Homo sapiens: one gene and its partners. The protein of the gene in region 2 binds, or shares a complex with, the protein of the main gene of each other region. Each region holds a gene or a part of one and is shown on either strand. Other genes may lie near its edges.

Region 1 (7,024 bases), on a different chromosome or scaffold from region 2:
TTTAATTTAACCAGGACCACATGCTTGTCATCTCTCTGATGCAAATTTTCAAAATCATTTTAATTTAGATTCTAATGTCTGCCTGGGTTTTTAACAGGCTGTGAACCAGTGAGTGCCTTGTTAATGTAGAATGATTTTTCCCCCCTGGGTGGGTGTTAGTTAGCTCCTCTCTGAAAATGTCTCAGAGAATGGTATTTTAATTGACTTGTAGAGAGCTGCTAAATTTGTTATTATCAGCAATCAGAAAGTCTTTGGTCTACCACACATCTCCCTCCCTACTATCTCTTCATTGTTTGGCTGAAGTTTGCCTCTTGTGAGAAAACAATACAACTCCCCTTCTCCACACACTTTTTTTCCAGCCCAGATTAATAGGTATCCCCTACCCTAATCCCAACTCTATGATCTAATACCTTTTTTAGGAGGAACCACTTCTTTTTAATATTGAAATCTGCTGGTTACTTTATGTTTTCTCAAGTTCAGTTGACTAGAGCTGACCACAGGGTGTCATCAATTCAGATTCCTAAATAACCCTTTCTCTCCACACCCAGTCCTCCAGCTGGTGAGCCCTGGGCCAGATTGTTTGATCTTCAGGTATTTTAAATTTTAGTTACATCAATTAATGTAAATTAATCCAAATGCTAATTTTTGTGGTGCAAGAAGTTTCTTATGTAAATTCAGGGTATGGATAAGCTAATTAAGATATCCATCTTTGGTGGCTCTAAGTGTATTATTTGTTTTTAAATAAAGTGTACAAATATAGATAACATGCTATAGGTGTCTCATGAATTGGAATATTTGTCAGATTTGGGATCTAGCTGTGGCTTTACAGTAATCAGTTAAATTAACATAGTCTGATTTGGGGCTTTTGGGGGAGGAGTTGTAGAGGGGTGCAGAGAAATAAAAGGATATTAGACAAAGTATACATGAGTCCAAAATTAATGAACCAGTCTTAATTACTGATTGTGAGGAAGGAGAAGTTTATAGAGAATTTGGGCCTCTGAAAAGCCAAATTAAAATAGCTTCTAGGATTGGGTCAGTGGTACTTTCAGAGACACATATGTTTAATGAATAGGTTTTATGTTTTTCAAATGTTCAGTTTAAATGGCTTTTAAAATTTATACACATATATAAATACAATGTTTTTATTTTTTGTTTCGCTACTTAACAGACATACACAAGCCTTCCACACTCCCTGCCCCTTCAAATCAACATTATTTTTCAAGGCCTTTGGCCTGCCCAGAACTCACAGTCTTTTTGTTCCAATCAGGATCCACAATACAATATGAAATTTAAAAGGCATCTCTTCTGATATCCTTGAAACTATCCACCATTGTTTGGTGTTCTGTATGCTGGTATACTAATGAGTATTATATCCTTTGGTATGTACACACATTTTCAGTAGTGTTGGAAACACCTCTTTTATCTTTTTAATGAGAACTGAGACATGATTAGCTTGAGTAATTTTGGAGATCTATCTCAGGAGGTCATTAAAACTCCAAAAATTATTCACGGATTGATGAACCTCCTGGGGTCAGCCTAAGATTGCCAGGTAGTATTCTGACCTCCTCTGGGTTTCCCAAGATCACTGATGTTTTGCAGGGCCCCAGCATTGTCCTGGCACATAAAATATTCCCAGAACACCTTGGGAGTCAAGCATACCTTTTAACCTAAACATTATAATCATGGAGCATCCCTCCGCCTGTTACTTCTCAGGATGACCAGAACACTCCAGTTCTCTAAGGAAGCACTGACATACGGCTCTGAAAATTGGAATCCGTTTTCTGAAACACAAATTTTAACTCAGTAAGTTTTGTATATCAAATGATTCAAAACCCACCAAACATAAAATGACTCGCTTCTAAGTATCACTCAAACCCTACAAAACCTAACCCTTTCCTTATTCCTAATTGATATTTCACTAAAGGTAATGGTAGTTTCAGTTAGATTGGAAGTCATTATTTGGGTGAGCAAAGTCTGCAATAACCTACTGATAGGAAGGACCTATTTCATAGAAAAGTATCTTGTCCTTGGTGATTTAGCCATTCACCTTACGTGAAGAGTGGTCCAGATGCCAGCTCCACATTGACTTTTTCTGTGTCCCTCTTTAGGTAATTAACCCAGTGATGTAAAGGAGAGCCCACAGTAAAACATCTGTTAAACAGCACTTGGAGTACTATAGTGTTATTAATTTATGTGCTATAATTTCTTATGCCATCATAAAATCTAGTGTATGTACCAGGTTCCCAATTCATTGCCTCAAACAAAAGATTTTTAAAAATTCTAATAGCATCAAATTAAGGGTAATGGTAGGGAAACCCATCATCCACAATTAAATATGCCCAAACTGAAAACTTTAAGAAAAAAAAGCACATGGAAAGCAACGTTTTACATTAATCGTGAGTTGTAGAAATAAACAGCTTGTGGTTTGTATATGTGCCGAAATGTTAAAGTATGCTGGCATCCAACTACTTCCCTTTGGAAATGGGACCAAGACAATAATTTTTCATGCATAAACAAAATTAACTTAGAGCAAAAGTAATTTTATCAGAAACAGTTTATTTTGGGGGCTGGATAACTTGGGTGAGAGTGTGGGGAAAGAAGTACCTTACCAAAAAGGAGAAGCAACTGACCCTGTGGCCTGAGCCACATTGTCTTCCATTTCAACTTCAATGGGCTGGCAGTATACCACTTCTGACCTCAAAGAATGAATGGTTCCAATTCTGGCTTGTCATTGGTCCTTGTTATCTAAATTAAATATTTTTAGGAAATATATCAAAAGTATCCTAGAGCCCCATGGCAAAGTGTCAGAGGAAATAGTTTTCATTATATTTTAGGAAGCTGTAAAAATATAAGCCCAAGTATTTTGTGTCATCTGCATATGTCAGGATGAAGACCAGGCATGTAAGAAATATCCTAAAGTAGCCAAGTGATAATCTCATGAAAAAATATGAGAATCGTTTTTACAGAGTGAGTTCTCTTTTGAATGGTTTTGACTATGCTTTTAAAAACATTTTTAAAATGTACTTACATCTTTTTCGATAGCCCACGTATTTCAGAATATCCTCTTGATAGAATAATATCACTCAGTGTGATTTTTAGAAAAAGAAAAACTCGGTGGTCTCATATCTTTTGACAGTTGTTTGTGAATAATACCCTCCCCAACAACCTTCCCAGTACTCAACTGCTATGTAAGAATGCTTTCTTATGTGGTAAATGTCTCAGTATTTTGCTGCCTGGTATTTGTTCAGTTTCCTTGTATATCTCAGGGTCAGAAGGAATCAGGCTTTCTCCCAACTCTGAAACATTCAGACTTACTTTCTTTTTGGTCAGCCTTTTAACAAGCAAGACAATAAACTCCTTTTGTCAGAATCGATTTGATTAAAAAAAAAAAAAAAGAATGTGCTCCTTATTTCTCATTGCTGTAGAATACGTAGGAATACACATCTACTAATCACAATTAAAAAATAAGAGAATCTTTAGAAACATCATTGCTTTCTGGAGGTAGAAATTTTGAACTTGAAGGTTGTAGTTCCAGGCAATTTTGTGCCCTTGAGGTGTCCAATTGATAGTATAGCTTGCCTCTGCTAATAAATACACAAAAGTTTTCTTTCCTGTGATTTTCAGAAATTATTTTTGGAATACAAAGATTAATAAGGAATATGTGATGTTTATCTCCTGCATTTCAAAATCTTCTGGATTTTTTTTGAGGCATGAGGAGCAGGTAATGAGATTTTTTTTCTGAATATCTTGATTCTCTCCCTTAACCCAGATTTTGCATATTATGCATTGCTCATTTGTCACCTACAAAAATAAAGGTTAATGATTATTTGTTTGCTTTTGTCTATATAAGCTCCCTAAGGCACAGACCATGTTCGTTTTTCTTATGTTCCTCTTAGCACTGTGCCTGGTGCCTTGCCATATAAAAGGTACCCTATAAATATTTGTTGGCTGAGTAATCAGAGAGCCCATTTCAAAATCTAAATTATACAAATCATCAAAGACCAAAAAAAAAAAAAAAAAATCTCTTGACAGTTGATGCTCAAATGCATTTGGTTCTGTGGAGCTTATCCTGAGATTGAGGTCTGCACCTTGACTGGAGAGGAATTTGGACTTTACCTCACAGGTAGCAACAAAATGCCTGAGTAGCAACGTCTTTATACTGCACAGTTCCAGTCCTGCCTGCGTGAAAACTGAGCAGAGCATGGTGGGGACAGGAAGGTGTCCCTAAACCCTGTTGATGACCTCCCATCTATCCCCGGACCCCCATATCTCCTCTGCTCATCCCCTGTTCCCCACTGGCCTCTGATCAGTTGAAAGGGAGCTTTTCTAGCCTGGAACCTGAGCCTGCCTTGATTATCCTGGGCTCAGAACAGGTCCACTTCCACACTCTTTCCTTGCAACCTACAGATGGCCCTACTGACTGCTGTTGTCCAGGAGAAAGACGAACCTCCCAGTGGAATCTTGTCAGGAAAGGCATCCCTCTGGGGAGCTTTCTTTGGAGAGGAAAATTCTGGGACAAAGTTCCTCAGGATGCTCTCAGGCTGGTTTTTGTCTTGAAGATTTTATAGTAATTGTACCAATGTTTATTAACTCTCCTAGGAACATCTCTGTCTTTGGTTTTCTGACAGCACTCCAGCAGGGCCCAGGGCTTTAGCTGAACAGTGCAATTGTTTTAGGAATAAAACAGTCAACAAGTTAGAGACCAACTATTTATATTTAATATTCAAATGACTTTAAATCATTAAAAGAATCAGCAAATTACATATGAAATATTCAACGAATAATCTCAACATTAAACATATACCATGTAAGAACTGTCATTAAAATTACTAAAAATATGATTCCTTTAAGATCAGTTCAACACAGAAGAAAGCAGGAATTTGGCCTGGACAATAGGACATTTATTGTCTGTTAGATTTTAGACAAGTCAACTCTTCTAAATTGGCTTCTCATCTATGAAATGGGGATAATAGATCTGCCTAATTAGGTTGATTTGAGATAACGGATGTAAAACACCTAATAAAATAAGCATCCAGCAAATGACTTGTTCACTCTCTGAATACAGACTTCTGGTCATGTAGTTCGGTCACACTCCTGATAGCTTCTAGAACATCAGGGTTTTAGGAGAAATAGGTTAAAATGAACATCAAGAGTAGCAGAAGACTACTTTCCTTAATATTTGAGTGCCAGCTATATGCCACACAGTTCTAGTTGCTGGCAGTCAGCAGTAAACAAAAACTTCACCTGATGCAGCACATTCCAGGTGGGGGAACAAGTGAAAATATAGGGAATATTAGTGATAAGTGCAGAGGGAAAAAAAATAGAGCAGGGAAGGGGGATGATTTGATGTTTTTCAGGTTAAGAAAGTGACAGAAATGAATTTAAATGCAAAAAACAATGCATAAAGATTCATAATGGCAAAACGAAGCATGTCCCATCATACCCCTTCATTCCTACCTCCCTGATATGTATCTTTCTAATTATTCATACAAATGTGTATACCCAGTTATTACATATGGGGTTTTATTCTACATATTATGCTGCACTTGCTTTTTCTAATATAATGTGTATCATGAGCACCTTACAAATTTTTAAAGGTCTCTCAAATTTATCAGTAAACATATACAGTCTAACGTTAATGAGAAGATATTTTGGTGGGCAGTTTGCTTTAAATAAATGGGATCATGTACGTTCTCTGCATCTCACATTTCTCATTTAACAATGTAGGATGAGAATTTCTCTAAGTCTATCATAGCTCTTATTTCCTTTTTATTATTACAATAAACATTCCTGTGTATATGTTTGTCACCATGATGGTTTTACGTCTGCGGAATAGATTCCCTGGAGTAGGATTGCTGCATTGAGGAGTATGTATATTTAAATTTTTAAATAAATATTGACAGATTGTTTCCCAAAGTGGCCGGAACAGTTTTTATTTCCATCAGTAAATGTATAAAAACACTTTTCCCTTAATACTCATGGCAATAACTATTGTAACATTAAAAAATACGTAGAAAAAAGAAAAAAATCCTGGTGGATGTAGTGATTTTTCAGTGTTATTTTAATTTCCATTTTCCTGACTACTATAAATGTAGACATCTTTTCAAATGTTTTGGTCATCTGGATTGCACTCAGAACTGAATTATCTATTCAAAGTTCTGTAGGTTAGAACTCCAGGGAAACTCAACTGGGCTGTCTGTTCAAGGCCCAACAAGGCTGAAATGAAAGTGTCTTCCAGGGTGGGTACTCAACTAAAGCTCTGAGGAGGAATTCGCTTCCAGCCTCATTAAAGTCAGAGGATGGAGGTCCCTGTCTCCTAGCTGACTGTCAAATCTGATCCTTTAGAGGTTGCTCCGTGGTCCTTGCACGTGGTCCCTTCCACCTTCAAAGCTTGCCAGGGTGCATCAAATTATTTTTATACTTTGACTCTACTTCTACCAGCCAGAGAAAACTGCTTTTAAAGGGCTCTTGTGACTAGTTTAAGCACACCCAGATTGTTAAGGTCAACTGATTAGTAGCTTTAATTACATCTGCCAAGTCCCTCTGCCCTGCAATGTAACATCAACCATGGAAGTAACATGAGGGGCAGAGTTCATGGGGGCCATCTTAGAATTCTGCCTACCACAAATATTCGTAGTTATACTTTTATATACATTTTTAAATTTTTCTTATTTTTGGTCCATATGTTTGTACCGTTTGTCTTTTTAGTTAACTAGTTTGTGAAAGCATTTTGTATGTTGTACAATATATGTTCAGATTTTCTTATCTTGGATGCAAACATTTTTTTCCAACTCTTGTAAGTTGTCTGTTGACCACATTCAAAAGTACTTTTTCCAAATAAAACTTTGCCTTTTGAATTTCACTTGAGTGAATTGCATATTTGCATTTTAAAATGTTTATTTTGTTATTTTATTAAAGTTTTGCCCATGTTCCACTGTGTTTTTTAAAATTTGCAGGTGCTCTTTTTATACTACATGTAAACCCTTTTTCTTACTATTTGCCAGTGTTTTTCTCCAAAACTATA
Region 2 (7,024 bases):
GTCCCTCCAAAAATGTAAAATACCTTATTGATGATTGTTGTTATTAATGTTGAAATAATACTTTGGATCTGGCAGGTTAAAAAATGTATTGTTGAAACTAATTTCACTTCTTTTTGCTTTTTAAAAATATGGCTACTAGAAAATGTAAAATTCTCTTTTTGTTTGGTTTTTAGAGACAGGTTCTCACTCTGTTGCCCAGCCTGGAGTGCAAACGTGATCACAGCCATAGCCGCGAACTCCTCAGCTCGAACAATTCTGCAGCCTCAGCCTCCCAAGTAGCTAGGGCCACAGGTACAAGCCACCATGCCTAGCTAAATTTTTTTTTTTTGGTAGAGACAGGGTCTTGCTATTTTGCCCAGGCTGGTCTCAAACTCTTGGCCTCAAGCGATCCTCCTGCCTGGGCCTCCCAAAGCATTGGGATTACAGGCATGAGCCACCACATCCAGCAGAAAACATAAAATTCTGTGTGTGGCCCACGCTGTACTTCTACTGGCCAGCACTGGTACAGATCAACTTGCCTTAACAACTAAAAGAAGAGGAACAGAGAGATAGGGGCCTGGGAATGGGAAACGTGGATCAGTTCAACACATACAAGCCACACACTCTGTGCCCTGGAGCTGCCCTGGGGAAATCAAGTCACGTATATAAACAAACAGTTCATAACAATTTCAGGCAATTCTGGACAGTGTGGAAAGTATTGGTTTTAAAAGTAATACTACAAAAGCAGAGAGCAAAATGCCCAACAAGACAGTAACAATCCTACCCGTTTCTGGTTTTGTTCTATTTGTTTTATTATAAAGCTCTTTCTAATGGGAAATAAATGCCTCTAGAATGAGGTATGTGATGCTAAGTTTGAGAAATCAAAAAGTTTGTGTTCAGGCAAAAGATGGGTGACTTTTTAATTCTATTTTCCTTTATTCCTATATTGTTTTTAGTATCAAAGGAGGGAGGGATCGTCCTTCAATTGCCTCAAAATTGAAGGCAGCCAAGTAGATCATTTTTATTTTCTAGCAACTTAAAAAGTTGAAATGTCTTACTAAGAAACCCGAGTTCAGAAGCATAAACGTGAAGTATCAGAACTGTGGTTTTCTCCTGCTGTCCCCACGTAGAGGGGCTCTTCACAGGACAGTAGGCAGCCCCTTCAATCACTTCCAAATAGCAAAAGGGACCTCACGTGTGCAAAACTTCTTTATGTACTGTCAGGTGGGACGCAGTCTCAGGAAAGACCCAGAAATCCCCCTCATGATCACAGAGTCTCAGCCAGCTTTGGGAGGTGTCAGCCTGGACACCTGAAGATGAACTGTCAAGGCAGCAGCACGCCTGGTCCTCCTGGGGGTGTGGAGGACAGCCCAGTGACAAATCACCCTCAGGTCACACAGAGCGGCTTCCCAGCACACATCCACTGCCTCCAAACGCCTGCACTTGTGCCAGATGGCAGTCAGGAGGGGCTTGGTTCCCATGGATACTCCTACAACAAGTTGGGAGGGGGCAGGGAGGGCAAAACTGTCACCCCACTGAGTCCTCACCCATAGTGCATTCAACAGGTGGGGCCACTGGGCAGGGACAAAAGCTCCCTACAGGCTGGCACAGATGAACCCCTACCAAGGAGGCTTCCAGACATGACACACACAGCTAACACAGGGAACACACCTGCGCCCGCTCCCGCTGAGTTGACCACACCAAAGCTGCTGTCATTTCTCACACTTGACTTTAAAGCCGAAAACCAGATAGATAGTTACACACATCTGGCTAAGAACGATCATTCTCTGGCCAATAATTAAGCTGCATAATTAAGAGGAAACAGGTATTTCACCACCACCCTGTATTTATGTGGCAAAAGCTACAAATGCACTAAGTCCTGTGGGCTTTCCAGTAGTTTCCAGATTCAGATCCTTCATTCACATTGATTTCTAGAATTCAGAACAAAGTCTCCTCTAATTCAACTCTGTCTACCCTGAGGCCTGCAAGATAACAGGAACAGACAGGCCAAGAATCAAGTACCAAACTCATCAACTAAGTCCCAGCCCAAGTGCAGGTCTCTCCTTCCCCAGCCCAGAGGGGCCCTGGGTAGTTACCTCTGGAGCCGCTGCACGAGCTGGGCCACCATGGTGTCGGAGATGCCAGGGCACGCCTCCTCCGCTAGGTAGATGGCCCCTCGCAGCTCTTCAATGGACCCCAAGTTCCCTCCGCACGCCTGGCTCTTCTCCTTCAACTGAAAACACACGAACAGGAAGAATGGCATGAAGCACACCAGCTGCAAAACTGGGAAGCATGCTGTTCAAGGAACAACACGGCGTGTGGACCACGACACTACCCCAGCCCCAGGGTGTCCGGGAAAAGCTTTGGCTAGGGCTCCAGGCCACTTCAAATTGCTTTTTTTTTTTTTTTTTTTTGTGAGACGGAGTCTGGCTTTGTTGCTCAGGCTGGAGTACAGTGGCGTGATCTCAGCTCACTGCAACCTCCGCCTCCTGGGTTCCAGCGATTCTCCTGCCTCAGCCTCCCGAGTAGCTGGGATTACAGGCCCCTGCCTCCATGCCCAGCTAGTTTTTGTATTTTTAATAGAGACAGGATTTCACCATGTTGGCCAGGCTGGTCTTGAACTCCTGACCTCAAGTGATCCGCCCGCCTCGGCCTCTCAAAGTGTTGGGATTACAGGCGTGAGCCACTGTGCCCGGCCCGGGTTCCTTTTGAAGAAAGGTGATTCAAATGCTCTGAGAGCAGTTATGTATACACAGGGCAATCATCAGACCATAATCATTACTGTTCGAGGCCAGAACAGAGACGACTAGCTCTCTGTGTGCCTTTCCCAAGTCTCACCGTGATGGACTGTCCTCTCTGTGCTGTTTTCCTATTTCAACCATAACCTTGTACCAGAAAAGCAATTTCAAAGCCTATCCTAAGTTATTCTGATCTCAACACTGCTTACTTCCTAATGTTAATGGGTTGGTTCTTAAACTCCAGCAAACTGCCTTTGTGATCCAGAGTAGAGTCAAAATATTTGATTTCATGTAAATAAGTGGCAGCCTTAAATTCTGGGAATCTCCAGTGTTCTTCCTGGCACCTCTACTCCCAAGAGAAATCACAACAGTGCCTTCAGACACTTCCCTCAGTTGAAGGTCAACTCCAAGTCTCTCTCTGGAGGCCCAAAAACGTGAACTGTGAAAATAAGAGCTGTTCAAGTCAAGATACAGCATGGCTCAGAACTCAACAGAAGAGGCTCTTTGTGATGGACACCGCCTCCTCTTCAGGGAAGAAAGAAACATCTCAGGCGACATTCAGCTTGGTTTTCAGGTTGTTGAACACATGCTGTCATTTCCAAACCCAGCCCTGCCCTAAGAGCAACGGCTTCTCTCTTCGCTACTGAAGGGGCAGGCAGGAACTAGAAGGGTCTGACCTTGGAGGGCCAGTGGGTGTAGAGAGCATTTGTTCCTGAAGTTCTTGCTGTCACAGGGCCACGCCGCCGGCCCCGAGGCGGCCACTCGTGTTTGTCTAGGACTCCCAATCACTTGACAGTATTTACAAGTCCCGAGAGGGTCAGCTACAATCCAGCACTCTCCCTCCTGCCCATGCCCCGCCCCTAAGTCTCAAAGAAGGAGCAAAGGCGGCAGAAGGGCCGCCCTGGGAGAGGGCCTGTCCCCTTGCCGTGTGGAACGTGCTGGACCCATCACTGACTTCAGGGAGCAACCTGACCTGTGCTCCCTGAAGGAAAGCAGGGACGCCAACACCCGTCTCCTCAATGTCCTCATCTGTAAGCATGGGGATATAATCCTTCTACTGGGCTTCTACAAGTATTGTATGAAATAATACACAATAAACACTCTGAACTCTAGGGTAGCAAATATCATTCTTAAAAATACATTGGGAAAGATGCCTGTGAGTTTAGCAATTGGTTACCTGGAAAATCCAGGATATGACGGCGTTTAGGATATGTCCTGAATAATTATGTCAAAGTTGCTTCATGGGCCCAGTAAAAAAATAAACAGCCTCAGGAGAATGAAAAAGTCCATGCACTTTCCCTAACTGCCTGACTGACCCTATTCCAGCGGCCAATGGCAGGGCCGCAGGAGCACAGCCTGGAAATCCCACGGGGCCAACTCCCATGGGACAAAATGAAGCGCAGGATGGCGCTCAACCCGGACATCCTAGTTAGGAAGAACACAGGTGCCCAGAACCATGAGCCAGGGCTGAAGCCAGACATCATCCAGCAGGGCCTCCGCGTGCCCTGTGGCTTCCCCGACACCAGCGGGCTCGGCTACTTCCCACTTGAAGCTGCAGGTGAGGCCTCGGGCTCTGGCCACAGCCCTGCTCCCACCGGGCCCTGAACTTGCCAGGTCAGAGGCCCTCAGACAAACCCTCCAGGGCACCTGCTGGGCAGGGCAACAGGTGAAGGCTTATTGGAGGGCTGGGAAGAGGCACTGGCAGGACCGTGGCTGGCCAGGCACGGCCCATGGCCGGGGGTCCCCCGCTGCGTGACGCAGGCACAGGGGAGGAGAATGAGCTCCTATGACACTTCCTCTCCTGAGCACCTCCCCTTCAAGGACCAGGACCCCTAAACACAGCCGCAGTGGAAAACTGCCCAAAGAGGGAAGATCCCCACGCAAACAGATGCGTGTGTGGCCCACAGTGAGTACCTCAAAGGCAGCCTCAGCCAGGAAGGGGCACAACAAGAAAAGAGGGGACTTCCAACTTATTTTCAAATCCGCTACTAACCAGATGCAGAACAATCTTCATTCTTATAAAGCCTACTTTTGAAAATCTCTCAAAACACGGCCACGGGAGCACTTTCCTCTGGGAGGGAGAGGCTGAGCAGGGAGTGGGCGTGGGGAGGCCCAGCTGGGAGCACAGCACTGCTGAGCAGAGGAGGGACTTCAGTGAAACATGTGGCTCAGGGGAAACCGGAGGACTCCAGGGCATCCAACGTCTCCTTAGAAGAAAGAATCTACTTTTCACATGGCCAGAAATTGGTCTGAGGCAAAGAGAGCAGGCTGTACACAATGAGATTTGCTAAAAAGCAGGGCAACGGGTGACACAGGGTCTCGGGCTGGGTCACTGTCATCCAGTCTACACATTCCAGGCTGCGGCGGAGTGGGCATCACCCAGGACAGGGGAGGCGCAAGGTGGTGCTGACAGCCTTTGGGAAGGCACCATGCAGGCTTTCCGAGCCTTTGCCAGCTTGTCTTAATGTCCCCAACTCTTAACTGGCAACATCACCACTGAAGTGTGTCCAGCTTCTCCTTCCCCCTCCCCTCCCACTCCGAAAAGGCCAGCCAGGTACCTACCTCTGCAAACAGAGGAGAAATAATTGTAGATAAACACTGAGAGAAAGGCCTCTTCGGGATGTCTTTCATCTTGGGGGAGAGGGAAAAAAAGGTCATCAGAAACAGTTGACGTTCACATTGGCAATAATTTAATAAACCTCCCACCTGGACTATGGAAGCGCAGGAGTTGCCTCTACACTTCACGCTGAGGAAACACCCTCTGCGCACCATAACATCTGAAGGAGACTATCGGCTGCCTCTCACTAGACTTCAAAGTTTCATCTGCAGTGACATGCAAAACCCACGCACCGGGGAAACCAGCATCTGGGTTCCATGTGGAAGGGGACTCTGTGTGGGCACAGGCGGTGAACTGCCTCGTCTTGCTATCTACGCAGAAGTGCTTTACTGGTTGGGCGTGGTGGCTCATGCCTGTCATTCCAACACTTTGGGAAGCCGAAGCAGGAGGATCACTTGAGCCCAAGAGTTCGAGACCAGCTTGGGCAACATAGTGAGACCATGTTTCTATTAAAAAAAAAAAAAGTTTTAAATAAACTGGGCGTGATGTCACATGCCTGCAATCCCAGTTACTCAGGAGGCTGAGGTGGGAGGATCACTTGAGCCCAGGAGTTTGAGGCTACAGTGAGCTCTGATGGCACCACTGCACTCCAGCCTGGGCAACAGAGACCCCGTCTCAAAAAAAAAAAAGAGAGAGAGAGAGAGAGAGAGAAAAGTACTTTACTAATGAAACCCTGGAAATAGAAATCAGGTCAAGATTGGCCATTCCAATGGCTGTCTAGGACAGAGACCGAGTTTCTACTTTTGCAACCTCTATTTGGACATTTAACACCTGTTCACTTATCAAAGCGGGACTTGTAGGATCAACAGGGGACAGCCACTGGCCCACCCTGCCTGAAAGAAACTACACCACTATGCTTTACAAGACCCTAAATATATGGCCTTTCATAAATTTAACAGGCATAAAACCAATTAATCAAAATTGTTTTACATAAATATCAAAAGCAATGCATTTACTTATAAGGTCCTTAAAACTCAGTCACAAAATTATGATATGTATGTAAGTAACCGCAACATGCACAACAGTCCCTCAGAGCTATGAAGTCATTTCACGGGTCACCCCCAAACCCCATGACATTGCCACATCGGGACATCCTAACTCAACAGCAGGGCTGCAGAGAGCAGAATAGAGTGGCACAAAACAGACCAGAGGCCAGACTCCCTGGTGTGAACACCTGGATCATCAGACAGAACTAAAGCTCTTCATCTGCCCATCCCCTAGCAACAAAATTCCAGGACAGCTGCCACAAAGGACCCCAGCCGCACCCACAGCAAGCTTCACACACAAGTGCCTCCAAAACACTGCAGACTGAGGTCAGCGTGGCCATTCTGGAGTGAGCAGACGTACCTTATTTCTGTCCAAGTCCGATGGCTGAAGAGCTCCATTCTCGAGATTCTTGGGATCTTTTTCTCGGATTGTGAAGATCCAGTCCCCAGAATCACTGCCCCCCGAGGCTTGGCCATCTGTTTCCCTTAACACAGAAATGCAGGAAATCCCATCAGTGCTCGCACACCTGCTCTGGGGGCGCTGGGACGTTCAGGGGGAGGCCGCCTGGGGACCTCTAAACCCACACCCACCAGCCCCAAGTCCCCACCCATCACACCCTTGTCCAGTCCCTCTGGGATTTCCCAAAGACCCCCCCGCCTCCTCCCTCACAGAGAAGAGACCATCGGGAGGTGGTTCCACAACT
Region 3 (7,080 bases), on a different chromosome or scaffold from region 2:
ATGGTGTGGTGGGTGCTGTGCGGTGCACTGGTGCAAAGTCCCAGAGGCCAAGATTCAGTCCAAGCTCTGCTATGACTGCTTGGGTGACCCTGGGGAGGCCACTATGCTTGCCTGAACCAATTTTCTCAACTGTACTGGGTAGCAGAGAGGTACAGAACATGGGCTTAAAAGTCTACCGACGGTCGGGCATGGTGGCTTATGCCTGTAATCCCAGCACTTTGGGAGGCCGAGGCAGGTGGATCTCTTGAGGCCAGGAGTTCGAAACCAGCCTGACCAACGTGGCAAAACCCCATCTCTACTAAAAATACAAAAATCAGCCAGGCGTGGTGGTGGTGCACACCTGTAATCCCAGCTACTTGCGAGGCTGAGGCAGGAGAATCGCTTGAACCTGGGAGGCAGTGGTTGCAATGAGCCAAGATCATGCCACTGCACTCCACCCTGGGTGACAGAGTGAGACTCTGTCTCAAAAAAATAAAAATAAAAATAAATAAATAAATAAATAAATAAACAAAAGGTCCACCACAGACCAGCCCTTCTGCTCATCTGCTGGGATCCTAGATAAATCACCCTCTCAAAACCTCCATTTCCTCTCCTGATTTTTTTTAAAGGTAGGGGGAATATCCTTTATCCTCCCAGAATGCTGCAAGAATTAAATGACAGCTCGTATCTACAGTACTTGATACAGCGCCCCAGACATGGTATGTGCTCACTAAATTGCAGCTGGTACCGTTATTGCTGAGTGAGGTAATGACACTGCCTCTGCCTACATCACAGGGCATTGTGAAGATCTGATGAGATGTATGCTGGGAAAGAGCTTCGGAAGTAGAGAGTGGGACAGAAGTGAGAGCAGTTACATAAGGATTCTGCTCCCATCCCAGCCCCAAGCCTCAGCCACCACAAGTGAGGGCAGGGGGAGAGTTACTGGAGGGTCTTTACTCATCCTATGAACAAAATGCTTTTTTTTGAGACAGGATCTCACTCTTTTGCCCAGGCTGGAGTGCAGTGGTGCAATCATGGCTCACCGCAGCCTCAACCTCCGGGGTTTAAGCAATCCTCCCACCTCAGCCTCCTGAGTAGCTGGGACTACAGGCGCATGTCACCACACCCGGCTAATTTTTGTACTTTTTTGTAGAGATGAGGTCTTGCTATGTTGGCCAGGCTGGCCTCGAACTCCTGGGCTCAAGGGATTCTCCCACCTCAACCTCCCCAAGTGTTGGGATTACAGGCGTGAGCCACCGCACCCCATCCCTACCGACACAATTCTCATCAGCTATTTATTTGGGTACCAGCTTCCTACTAGATAGCAAACGGCAAATCGGAAGGGGAAAGGTGGGCTGCTACAAGCAGGTAATGACAATTTCTGCTAATAATAACCCAGTCCAAGAATCTTCAGACTTCCAGCGGGCCATTCCTGATCCCTTCAAATCCGGACATCTCCATGGTCCTCCAGTCACTGCCAATGGACCTGACGCTCCACGAGGTCACAAACCCTAGCCCAACTCCTCAGACTCTTCCATTCAACATCCCTGTCCCAAGCTACCCCAAAAACCACGGGGTCTTTTCCCAAGACTTCCACAAACATATCCCCTTCCCCCCAACCCCAGTCTACCCCCGTTCCGAGATGCCTCCTCATGTTGCCTTCGGGCTCTACAAAATTCTCCCCCCTAAAGCATCACCCCAGGGTAACCCCTAACTCGTCCTCATTGGCACCATCCCAGGACCCTCACCTCCATACTGGACATGCCCAACACCCCACACTCCAGTTCAGGGCTCTCTACCTACATCCTACAACACACGTGCCATCTCAGTGCCATCGCGCCCACTCCTGCACACCCCCAAAGTGGAACTTCCACTCTTAAGCTCTCCCATCCAGGCTCCTAGGGTACATTCCCTGCTCTGTCCACACTTCCACTCCAAAGAACCCTTCCCTGCACTGTGCAGCCACACATGCCCGGGATCCCCAAAGTTTCTCCTCAGAGGGGAAGGCACACACCTTCATCCTGGACCCCTTGAAACCCTCCTCCCACCCCTCGGGTCCTTACACAGCCCTCCTTCCGTGCCCACCGTCCAGTCGCCCCGAAACACACCGATCCCAGGTTCCCGACTTCCTCTCCCTAAATCCTCCCGGTTCCCCATCTGGACCCGCTCTTTCCCAGCGGGTCCCAAGTTCCCCCCTTGGACGCTCCCACCTCCAACCTGCACCTGGCTAGGGCCATGGTCGGGGTCGGGGTCGGGAGTCCCTCGGCGCCCGGCAAGCTTCTGCTTACTCCCACAGGAGACCACTCAGGTCTCCCAGACCCCTCCAGCTCCTCTCCACACCCTTTCCCGAGTTCTCTTAGCCTCCCCTCCAGGGCTCGAGTCGCCTCTCTCAGGAGCCCCGCGGCCAGCGTGCTCAGTCCCAGTCCCAGTCCCACTCCCAGCTGGTTGTGGTCCCTCCGCCCCTTTCTCTCGGCCGGTCCCGGTGATCCCTCCCACCCCCGGTCCCTCCACTCCCACCTCGGGCCGTCCCGGTCCCGTCCCACCCCGGAGTGCCCTCAGGACACCCCTCGGACGGCCCCTCACTCGCCCTCCGGGACCGTCGCGGTCCCCTCCCGCCCCCCCGCCGGCCGTCCCGGCGGCCATTGCTCCAAGATGGCGGCGGCGGCGGCAGCGGGTGAGGCCGGGCCGGGCCGGGCCGGGTTGGGGGTCGGGGGTCCCGGGACAGCGCTCACCTGTAACTCGGCGCGCTCGGCCTCCCAGCGGGCTTTCTCGGCTTCGAAGCGCGCCCACTCGTGCTGGATAAAGTGCAGGATCCCCGGCAGGCTCAGGGGCTCCGGGCCCGCCGTGGGCCCGGGGCTGCCTCCGCCGCCGCCTCCCTTACCTGCCGGGCCCGGCCCGGGGGCAGGGGCGGAGACCGGGGCCGCCCCAGTGGGGCCAGGGCCCGCGCCTGAGCCGAGCGGACGGCAGGAGGAGGCGGCGGCGGCGACCGCGGCGGCCGCTCGCTCCTCCATCATGGAGGCCCCGGGGCCGGCCTGCGCGCCCGCTGTGCCTCGCGCGCCTGCGCGGCCGCGCCAACACCCCCCCCCCTCCCCCGCCGCAACCACCGCGCGCGCGCCCGGCGGGGGACAGTAGGAAGGGGGGCCGGCGGCGAGCGCGAGCCTCGCCCACCCGGGTCTACACCGAAGGGTAGCGTGCCCGCGCGGGGGCCGGCGGGTGGGAGATCGCGCCCCGAGGAGGGCGAGGGAGACCCAGGCCCCGCGCGACGGTCCCCCTCGCTGGAGTGAGACTGAGGAAGGGGCCGCTTTCTGCCCCCCTCCTCCCACTTCGCCCCAGAGAAAGAGCCTTACCCCTTCCACACCCAAACACCACTCTCCTGGACAATTACTTTTACTCTGAGAGAAAGGGCGACCAGCAGTGGCCCCATCCTCTCTGATTGCCGGCCAGGTTGGTTGTCATGGTAACCCTTCCCCAGCGGTGGGGGCGAGGTGGTGGGGAGCAGCCTTCCCCTCGCTTCCACCTTTGTGGTTATGGAGCCCCAAACCTCTTAGGACTCTGCACCAGGAGAAGGTTGCTAAGGTAACCTAAGTGTCCGTGGTGGTCCTTCTGCTCCTATCCTCATTGATTACTATGGCAACCTCCCCCCCACCTAGCATTCAGGTAGAAAGGACCCCAGCCCCAAGGACACTGATCTCTAAGAGAAGCACCTCTTCCCCAGCCCCTCCCCCATAGCCACCTAGTTGGCATTACCATGGTAACCGTCTTCCCCTTCCCATCGTGGGAGGCCCATGCACCAAACTAACCAGGTGTTTTTATTTAGAGGAGATGCTCTGCTGAGGGGCAGTTGCTATGGTTACAGGGCCTGGACCTTCCTCCGGAAGGTGAGAAACAGGCAAGTTCAAGGCCTGGTTACTATGATAATAGAGCAGCCCCCTTCGAGTGACCCTAGGAACCAAGCCCAACAAAGGAGGGGATTTTTTTTTTTTTTTTTTTTTTTGAGACAGAGTGTAACTCTTGTTGCCCAGGCTGGGATGCAATGGCCCAATCTCGGCTCACCACAACCTCCGCCTCCCCGGTTCAAGCCGTTCTCCTGCCTCACCCTCCCAAGTAGCTGGGATTACAGGCATGCGCCACCACGCCCGGCTAATTTTTTTTTTATTTTTAGTAAAGACGGGGTTTCTCCATGTTGGTCACGCTGGTCTTGAACTCCCGACCTCAGGTGATCTGCCTCAGGCCCGCCTCGGCCTCCCAAAGTGCTGGGATTACAGGTGTGAGCCATCACGCCCGGCCAGGGGATGTTTTAAGAATGTCTCTCAGAGGTAGAGTGTGTCTATGGAAGGGGTTGTCATGGTAACAGCTTCTGTTGGCTTCTAGCCCTACCTTTTCTGGACACATTCATGCTAGAGGGATGGTTATAGGTTGCTATAATAACTGACATCCCTCCCATTCACCCCACCCCACTCCTGAGACACCCCAGGTGGTGCCCGAGATTATAGGACTTCAAGAGAAAGGATTCCCTGACCTTTCTCTTGCCACTTTTGTGGATAAGATGAAATTGTGCTCTATTGTACGGAAATGGCTGATTTGGGATTTTCTGGTTCTCCTCCTCTCAGGAGCGCAGCTCAGCTGGGCTGGAACTGCCCTCCTGGAACTCCCCCAGCCTACAACCTAGGAGGTAAGAAGTCCCTCAGTGTCACCTACACTCTCATGGAAACTGCCCTTCCTCATTCCTTAAGGCTTTCCCATGTCTCTCATTTTTTTCTTTTTCTTTCTTTCTTTTTTGAGACGGAGTGTCGCTCTGTTGCCCGGGCTGAAATGCAGTGGCGCGGTCATGGCTCACTGCAACCTCCACCTCCCTGGTTCAAGCGATTCTCCTGCCTCAGCCTCCCGAGTAGCTGGGATTACAGGCACCTGCCACCACGCCCGGCTAATTTTTTGTATTTTTAATAGAGATGGGGTTTCACCTTGTTGGCAGGCTGGTCTCGAACTTCTGACCTCGTGATCCGCCCGCCTCGGCCTCCCAGAATGCTAGAATTACAGGCGTGAGCCACCGCGCCCAGCCCTCTCATTTTTTTCTAACCGTCACATTCCCATTCCACAGGTGCAGGGACTGAGGCTCAGGCCAAATCGCAACTCAGACCCAGTGAACCCAAGGCCTGAAGAGAATTTGGATTCATTTACCTTGTTTTGTGGGGACTGGAGAGACAAGTAAACTCTCAGAGTAACTGTCCCCTCTGACTACCATTTCTAAGGCAAGCCCCCTGTTTCTACTCTTGCGCCCCCTGCTGGTTTCCTGCCCTGTCTGTAAGTTGCATGGCTTTTGTCCGTCTTTTTTTTGTTTGTTTGTTTGTTTTGAGACAGGGTCTCACCCAGGCTAGAGTGAAGTGGAGCAATCTCGGCTCACTGCAACCTCCGCCTCCTGAGTTCAAGTGATTCTCACACCTCAGCCTCCCCAATAGCTGGGATTACAGGTGCGCACCACCATGCCCAGCTAATCTTTGTATTTTTTGGTAGAGAGGGGGTTTCACCATATTGCCCACGCTGGTCTCTAACTCCTGACCTCAGGTGATCTGACCGCCTGGGCCTCCCAAAGTACTGAGATTACAGGTGTGAGCCACCACACGTGGCCCTGTCAGTCTTCTTTCTGTCTTCTGGAGGGCTGACCTAATGAGTACCTCGTTCATTCTGTATCCTCAAAACATGGGGTCCACCACAAAGAATACTTGAGTTTGTTGAGTTACTGAGTTGAATTAATTTATTAATGTGCCATAGCCAAGCTTTGAAAGCCCCTGTCAGGTTAGGGCTGGGGAAGGCTCACTAAAGATGGGCTGAGAGTTGGGGCTTCAGAAAGAACCCAAGAGAGAAGGTAAAGTTTACTGGTTTAAAGTACGACTCTGTAGCCAGCTTCTTGGATCAACTCTTGGGTCCACTACTTCACATTGTGTGACCTTGAATAAGAGACTTTAACTCTTTAACTCTCTGTGCCTTTGTTTCCTTTTTTTTTTTTTTTTTTTTTGAGATAAGGTCTCGAGGCCAGGCGCGGTGGCTCACGCCTGTAATCCCAGCACTTTGGGAGGCTGAGGCGGGCGGATCACGAGGTCAGGAGATTGAGACCATCCTGGCCAACATAGTGAAACCCCATCTCTACTAAAAATACAAAAATTAGCCGGGCATGGTGGCGCATGCCTGTAATCCCAGCTACTCAGGAGGCGGAGGCAGGGGAATCCCTTGAACCAGGGAGTTGGAGGTTGCAGCGAGCCGAGATTGTGCCACAGCACTCTAGCCTGGTGACAAAGCGAGACTCCGTCTCAAAAAAAAAAAAAAAAAAGAGTCTGGCTCTGTCACCCAGGCTGGAGTGCAGTGGCACAATCTCAACTCACTGCAACCTCTGCCTCCTAGACTCAAGTAATCCTACCACTTCAGCCACCAGAGTAGCTGGGACTACAGGTGCACACCACCATGCCCGGCTAATTTTTTAAATTTTTTTGTAGAGACGGGGTCTTACCAGTCCATGCTGGTCTCAAACTCCCAGGCTCAAGCAATCTCCCCCAGCCTCATCCTCCCAAAGTGCTGGGATTACAGGCATGAGCCACCACATCGGCTGGTTTCCATTTTTAAATGTGATCATAACACGAGGATTAAACAAGTGAATATGCCTAAAGTGCTTAGAACAGGGCCTGGCACATGGTGAGCTGCTAGAATTGTTATTATTATCCTCCCGATTCAGAAAAATGTAGAACATTCAGACCTTCAAAATCATCATTGTATCCACTTTGCCCCAACGAAGGGGTTTGTTGCCCTTAGAGGCGGTGAAGTCTGCATGGCTTTATCAGGGTACTAGATGATTCCTTTCCCCGCCTCAGGTTCCCTCACACCCTCACCAGCAGGTGGCACCTCTTCATCTGGCCATCAAATCTGCTGGTGTCTGGTCTGCGAGGGCCAAGAGTTGTGCTGGGCCTGAGGGTAGCCAGGACCTGGCTGCTGTCCTCTGCCCTGCTGGGCACCTCCTTCCTGGCCCAGAGTCAGTCAGACAGTGTGGCAAGAGCCAGGGCCTCAGAAGCGGAGACCTCGGTTCTCGACCCTGCATCCTTCTTATCTCTCTGA
Region 4 (7,024 bases), on a different chromosome or scaffold from region 2:
AAAAATAAATGCATACATCCCAGGTCACACTGCTGCTTAACCCTTTGGAAGTTACTGTCAGGGTGACAAACCATCCCAGTTTCCCTTGGACTGAAGAGTTTCCTGATACATAGGACTTTAAATGCTAAAACCAGTAGAGTTCCAGACAAACCAGGATGGTTGGTCACCCTAACTATGTGTCACTTTGGAATCTGAAGAAAGCTATGGATTCCTTCCAGAAACATTCCGGTGTACATGTACACACAGTTATCAGAGGATTCAAGGACCTCCCCACCCCAAAGGCATCCACAGACCCAGAGTTAAGGAAGATTCTCAGAACCCTGATTATGTTACCAATCAAGATTAAGACGACATGGAAAAAGTTCTTCTATAAATGTAGATTTGTTTCAGTGCATGACTGGGCCTCTTCCAGCTTCCAGTTCAATTCATCAAGGAACTGGGAATTGGCCCTTAAAATGCAAGGATACGGCTACAGCAAAGTTAAGTGAGAAGGCACAGTGAGCCCCACCCTGGGGACTCCCTGCTCCCAGCACTCTTCTTTGAGCTCCAAGTTCCAAGCCTGCTGACTACACTGACTCACTTACCATTGTCCTTGAATGCTTCCACTTTGTCAGCTTGTTCAAGATCCGAAGCAGATTGATACAAGAAAAGAGGTTCCTCCAGCAAAATTGGTTACTGTCACCTGCTTCCTGCAGGGTAAACCCAGGAACAATCAGCCCTCATGGCTGCAGTGTGTGCAGCAGTTTCCAAAAGTCCCTCACACATGATCTCAGGACAGCCGGGTCTCCAGGCCTCTACCAGGAATCCCCTGCTCTCAGAGCAGCCCCAGGACTCCATCCCAGAAGCTGGCAGGGGACTAGGGGAAGAGGGAGGCTCCCTAGACTTTTCCTGCAGGAAATATGAACCATGATACTGGGAGCTGTGGCCTTGGGCTGCCCCAGAGCTCCTACTGCCGAGTCCAGTGTTGAGGGAGAGAAGCCCTCTACTAGGTGAGCTCTGGATCAGCAGCCCCTGAAGACCACACTCCCTGACTAATCCCTAAATCCAAATCTCTCTGCTCTGCAAGAGCCCTCCTCCTGGCCCTTCTGTACACTTACAGTGCTTTAAAAGCCGGGCACTCCACAGTGATTTCACCTGCGGGAGACACCTCTATTCCTGCAGTGTTGGGGTAGGCAGGCTCTCTACCCACTGACCCTGGTGCCAAAAGGACAGCTGAGGAGAGCCCAGCCACTCACCAAACTCTCCGCCGTCAGCTCTGGCAGCTCATGCACCACGCAGTGAGGGTAATCCAGGACAGAAATGCTGCAGAGGGGAGAGGAACCAGATGCCCACCATGAGCAAAGGCCCAGGGCCTGGTGGAGCAGCCGTGCCTGAGCCAGCTCCCAGCTTTCCTCCCTCACTTGTTGGAGCAGAAGTAGGAATCTACCTGATGTGTCCCACCCCAGTTTCCCCACCTATAAGATGAGGAAATATCTGTTACAAGAGAACTTGTAAAGCACCCCTGTAGCCAGAGGCCAGCTTGTTGATCTTGTAAGGGGAAGAGACCCTCACAGCTTCCCCCACAGCAATCAATGTGGGGCGGGGGAGGAGATAGCTCAGGGCAACTAATTTATGCCAAACCTTTCTGGAGACAGGGTCTGGCCGGCGCCCTGTGGTATATCACACTGACGAGCAAGTAATGTCAAGCACAGCTGGCACCAGGCCAACAGCAGGGGCTAAGAGTCAGCAGATAGGGCATTACAAGGCACATGGCCGAGCCCCTTAGAGACAGCAAGCAGCCCATGGACTCCTCAAAAAAAAAAAAAAAAAGTACAGAAGGGACAGGGAGGAAAGTACTAGATCCTGGGATGAAAACCCTCCTGCCCAGGCACAGACCAAGTCACCTGGGGCAGGACTAGCTAGACTCAGATTTGACACAGTGGGCTCTCCACAGGCAGAGGCCATGTCTCATTTATCTTTATGTCTTGATGCCTAGCACAGTGCTGGCTCGTAGGTGCTGGAAAAATGGACACAGTGGGAAATACCAGCTGGGAACTCTGCCGTCTGACCATATCCACCCCTTCATGGTCCCTGGCCCTCATCACCTGTTCTTGGCAGTGATGTAGGACATGATGTTTTGATTGAAGAACTTTAGGATCAAAGGAATGCAGTTGGCAAACACCAGGTGCTGGGCCATGTATTCAAACTGAAGCCAACAGGAAAAAAAAAAAAAAAAAAAGGCGCGGCCCTTGGGACCTTGCCCTCTTTCCTCCAGGGATGAAAGGCCTTGGCTGAAGGGCCATGTCTTAGAACATTCATGCAGAGTTCAAGTGGGTCAAAGGCCAAGGCCCCCGTTCTTGTGGGCTGGAGGAGCAGCAGTGCCCGAGGCCCCAGCCCACAGGACAGGAGGGAAAGCCCTGTGGGTACCTGGTAGACATGGTTCAACTTAAAGTGCTTGAGCAGCAGCAGCAGGACAGCAGAAATGGCCTTAACAATGACCTCTTTGTGGCGGTTTACATCCACCCCCAGCTTCATGCTCTGCAACACTGTGGTGCTGGAAACATAATTGCCTGGGTAAGCCACCAGCATGCGCAGTACCTCATTTCTAGGTGCCCACAGAAAAGATGGACTCCGGAGCCTCCCTGGGCAAAGACTCCTACCTCCCCACTCACCCCAAGGACATCTCAGAAGTCAGCCGAGGGCTCCCCCATCCACCTCCCAAGCAATGTAGCCTCGCACAATTTATTTCTTCCCCATGATGCCCTCAAATACATTCTCAGTCTGTTTCTCTGCCTTTCCTCCAAAAATGAACTTCTTCTCCTTTCCAAGATCTCCCCTAAGCTTCTGCTGCCATATTAACCTGAGTTCTCCAAATGTGTTCTGTGGAATACCAGGATATTGGCAAGTTTCATGTCATGGAAAAAAAGGGTTTTGGAGTAAGATAAATTTAGGAAGCACTGAGTTACATTGGTTTCTTAATTCAGGACTTCTCATTGTACATCTTTGTAAGAGGAATTCCTCCTTATAAGAGAAATCCATGAATCAAATATACAGTATTTGACTCTAGAACCTTTTTTCCAAGGACCATCACATGATGGCCTAGTGTTCTGTGATCCTCCCTCTGGTGTTAGCCAACCCCTGCCTCCTCCCTCAGCCGGCCATCACTGCCATACTCCGGGGCCACAGCCACCCAGGAGCTGGGCTCAGGGCTGGTGGCCCAGGCAGGCAGAAGATCAGGTCAAGGTCCAGGTCCTTCTCAAAGTAGAACATGATCTCAATCTGGACTCTCACATGAAAGACAAGTACAGGGCACAGGGCAGAAGAGCTCTGAAGAATCTCACTCTATCGCCCTGAGACATTTGCCAGCATTCTGCGTGCCCAATCACTGGCGAAAAGGGATGTCTCTATACCTGGCACAGGTTCAGCTGTTGCTGGCAAGCTGTCTACAAACTAACCCTCCTCATCCTGGGTGTCTCAATCACAGCTGGAGAGTGGGGCTTTGGGGAAATGTCCAGGGTGGCCCCATTCATTTTACAGAGGAGGAAATGACTTTCCCCAATTCACTCAGGAGTTTGCTCAGTGGTAGAGTCTACACTAGAATCCAGGCCAACAGGACCAAGCCATCTCCCCAACCAGTGAAACTCTTTAATCTCGTAGTTTCCTTTTTTTGGGTCAAAAATACCTACATTTAACCTGTAGAGCTGGGCCAACAACAACCAACCTGACAAGAGGAAAATGTTTGCCCTTCTCCATCTATCTTCTGCCCCACCTGCTTCATTCACAGAATGATACTCACGGCATCTCCTCAGGCAAGACGTCCGCTAGGATGTTGATTGAGTCTGTTTTGGCTTTTGAGGTGGGTGCTGCAGCCAACAGGATCTTCAGGAGGGCAATCTGGGAAGAGTAGACCATTCAGACACAGGTCTGAGAGCCCAGGGTCAAAATTAAGCTCTGAGCAGTCCTCCTGTTGGTCTGCAGGTGGCAGGAGGACGGCAGGGCCTGCTCTAAGGCCAGTGTAGTGGGAGTGTCCCACTGCAGGCACCACTCACCATATACTGAGGCAGGCTGGGGAGCAAGCCTTGGTAGAGGGTTTCTGCAGGGACTTGCTCAACTTCTTCTTCTCCCTTTTAACATAATGAGTACAAGCATAAAACCCCAGCCCAGAATACAATCTCCTGAGCCAGCTTCCTAGCTGGCTGGAGGAAAACCTGTAAACAGTGATGTACATAATGATGTTAATGATGATAACAGCAAACCCTGAACACAAACAATGTGCCAAGCATTTTACTTGTAATAACTCAGTTCATCCTTATTATTATAACCCTATAAAGGTATTATTATTCCTATTTCACAGACAAGGAAATAAAGCATAGAGAGACCCAGTAACTTGCCTAAGTTGCCATCCATAAAGTGGTGGACCCAGGCATCAGAGGCAGGTTCCTGACTCAGTCTGTATTCTTAACCCTGCACTAGACGTGTCTCAGCCTGTGCACTGGGAGGTGGACTGGGAGCTCTTTGAGGGCAGGGCCTGGGGCAACCTTGTGGTCTAATCCCAGCACAATGCCTGGGAAGAGCTGGGGATCCCGGGGGCTGAAGAGGACCTCTAACTTTTTTTTTTGAGATGGTCTCGCTCTGTCGCCCAGGCTGGAGTGCAGTGGCGCTATCTCGGCTCACTACAAGCTCCGCCTCCCGGGTTCACGTCATTCTTCTGCCTCAGCCTCCTGAATAGCTGGGACTACAGGCGCCCGCCACCACGGCTGGCTAATTTTTTTTTTTTTAGTAGAGACGGGGTTTCACCATGTTAGCCAGGATGGTCTCAATCTCCTGACCTCATGATCTGCCCTCCTCGGCCTCCCAAAGTGCTGGGATTACAGGCGTGAGCCACCGCGCCCGGACTGAGGACCTCCAACTTACCCCTGAGAGAGGGGAGCGGAGGTATTCCTCCTCCATCTGTGCCTGGACCTCTGCAATCGACGTGTACTTGTGCTGGTGGGAGAGATGGGAAAAGAAGGGCTGGGGAAAACATTCTCTGGCCAAACTCCCTGCACTCTAGCAAAATCCCCACACATTTGTCTTCAAACACAGTCTTCTGAAAGAGGATTAAGTCACCACAAAAATCCCTAGCTAAAATCCCAAACCCCAGATATTTTTTATTTTTATTTTTTTGAGATGAAGTCTTCCTCTGTTGCCCAGACTGGAGTGCAGTGGCATGATCTTGGCTCACTGCCACCTCCGCCTCCCAGGTTCAAGCAATTTTCCTGCTCCAGCCTCCCAAGTAGCTGGGACTACAGGTGTGCACCACCACACCTGGCTAATTTTTGTATTTTTAGTAGAGATGGGATTTTGCCATGTTGGTGAGGCTGGTCTTGAACTCCTGACCTTAGGTGATCCACCCACCTTGGCCTCTCAAAGTGCTGGGATTATAGGCGTGAGCCACCATGCCTGGCCCCAAAATATTTTTCTAAAAGGGCCCCTTCCTCTTGCAACTACAGTAAGAAGCCCATGGTAGATAAGAAAAAAGTAAATTAAAGGAGGGAAATGGCCTTTCAGATAGCTACAGCAACAGGAGAAAAACTGAAAGCAAAATCAAGTACTCAAAAAGCCTAGCTGCAGAGAGACCACTTAGTACTACAAATTCCAAAAATATATTTCAAAAACATAAAAACAGTTTCACTCCAGATAGCTGTTAGGGGAGATGCCTCTTCCCCACTCTTAATGTTCTCTCCCGTGTGGAGGGACAGGGGTTTGCGAAACACCCCTCATCTCTCTCTGCCCCGTCCACACACTCACTCCTCCCTTCTCTGATCGGAGAGTATGGGAGGGGACACAGGGCGGACTTGTCCTCACCCTTCTCTTTTCTCTTTAGAACCTGTCTGCCTGCTGAGAGTCTGCTCTCTTCTCCTCCCCGCCACCAAGCTTGGCAGAGCCTCCCCACACTGCCTGGGACTGGTAGGTAACTCTGCCTAATTCTGGAACAACGTATTAGGACACTACTGCTGTGTTCTTAAGCCTCATTCTCCATGGCTCTATGAGCTATAAAGTTGGCATTACAATCTCCATCTGCCTACTCCTCTATTTCAACCGCCTGAGAACGTGGGCAAGGAAAAGGAGGGCTATTTATTGAGCTCTTTAGAATTTCAACAACTGTCAAGTAATATAATCCTTTTTTTTTTTTTTTTTTTTTTTAAAGAATCCGGGTCTCACTCTGTGGCCCAGGCTAGAGTGCAGGACCATGATCATAGCTCACTGTAGCCTTGATCTCCTGTGCTCAAACAATCCTCCTGCATCAACCTCTTGAGTAGCTGGGACTACAGGTGCATGCCTTGGTGCCCGGTGGTCAGGTAATATAATCTTTAAAGACTTCCCAGTCAGTCCCAAACAAAAGCTCAGCTAAAACAAGTAAAACTTATAATAAAACAAGCAAAACTTACGAAAGACTGTTTGCAAGGTTATTGCAAAGTCCACCCCGGCCTCTACCCCAGGTTCTTGCAGGCAGACAACAGTCTTAAAAGGCTTCTCCCTACAGGCTGGTTTCACTCTACTCACTTAGGACCAAACAAGCCAAAAGCTCACCCAAAGCCACTCACCTGTTTCAGAGTCTTGATGCTTTCGTGGATTGGCCTGGGCAGCCCCACCACTGTGTTCGTGTCACTGGAGAATAAAGAAGGCCCTGTGTTGAGCCTCGACATCAAATCACCTGGGATCCCAAACACCAAAGGCCGGGAGAGCTAACAGCAAAATGAACTCGGCTTTTACTCACCTGCCTAGAGTGTAACCTATAAATTTGCTGCGGCTGGACTCAAGGAACATCTCAATGTCTTTCTCTCTGCCACATCACCAAAAAAGAGAGAAAGAAAAAAGGTTTTTAGCAAATGCTATTTCAAAGTGTTACAGTTAACAAAAACACAGCATCCAGAAACTGTGAAGCCAGGAGAAGTCTCCTATAATTGTTTTTCTCTTTGAAAAAAGGGAAAAAACTGAAATTTTCAGAGAATTTTAATGTTTCTTATAATTTTGCTGGATCAGTAACCTGGAAATACATGTT

What was found.
Region 1: STK24 (region 2) and STRN share a complex: the UniProt entries of both Homo sapiens proteins name them as parts of the core of STRIPAK complex.
Region 3: STK24 (region 2) and STRN4 share a complex: the UniProt entries of both Homo sapiens proteins name them as parts of the core of STRIPAK complex.
Region 4: STK24 (region 2) and STRIP1 share a complex: the UniProt entries of both Homo sapiens proteins name them as parts of the core of STRIPAK complex.

Annotation. Positions count from the first base shown.
Region 1 is NC_000002.12:36,837,536-36,844,559, reverse strand, and holds the end of STRN (striatin), read left to right. Parts: 3' UTR 1-6,862; downstream 6,863-7,024. UniProt on the Homo sapiens protein: Calmodulin-binding scaffolding protein which is the center of the striatin-interacting phosphatase and kinase (STRIPAK) complexes.
Region 2 is NC_000013.11:98,455,093-98,462,116, forward strand, and holds part of STK24 (serine/threonine-protein kinase 24 isoform b precursor), read right to left. Parts: intron 6,806-7,024; coding exon 6,682-6,805; intron 5,349-6,681; coding exon 5,280-5,348; intron 2,213-5,279; coding exon 2,076-2,212; intron 85-2,075; exon of another isoform or gene 1-84. UniProt on the Homo sapiens protein: Serine/threonine-protein kinase that acts on both serine and threonine residues and promotes apoptosis in response to stress stimuli and caspase activation.
Region 3 is NC_000019.10:46,743,438-46,750,517, forward strand, and holds the start of STRN4 (striatin-4), read right to left. Parts: upstream 3,014-7,080; 5' UTR 2,994-3,013; coding exon 2,712-2,993; intron 2,654-2,711; exon of another isoform or gene 2,620-2,653; intron 1,348-2,619; exon of another isoform or gene 1,323-1,347; intron 1-1,322. UniProt on the Homo sapiens protein: Calmodulin-binding scaffolding protein which is the center of the striatin-interacting phosphatase and kinase (STRIPAK) complexes.
Region 4 is NC_000001.11:110,044,621-110,051,644, reverse strand, and holds part of STRIP1 (striatin-interacting protein 1), read right to left. Parts: exon of another isoform or gene 6,958-7,024; intron 6,806-6,957; coding exon 6,740-6,805; intron 6,631-6,739; coding exon 6,567-6,630; intron 4,966-6,566; coding exon 4,894-4,965; intron 4,104-4,893; coding exon 4,029-4,103; intron 3,874-4,028; coding exon 3,776-3,873; intron 2,534-3,775; coding exon 2,407-2,533; intron 2,186-2,406; coding exon 2,085-2,185; intron 1,303-2,084; coding exon 1,236-1,302; intron 690-1,235; coding exon 585-689; intron 1-584. UniProt on the Homo sapiens protein: Plays a role in the regulation of cell morphology and cytoskeletal organization. Required in the cortical actin filament dynamics and cell shape. Part of the striatin-interacting phosphatase and kinase (STRIPAK) complexes.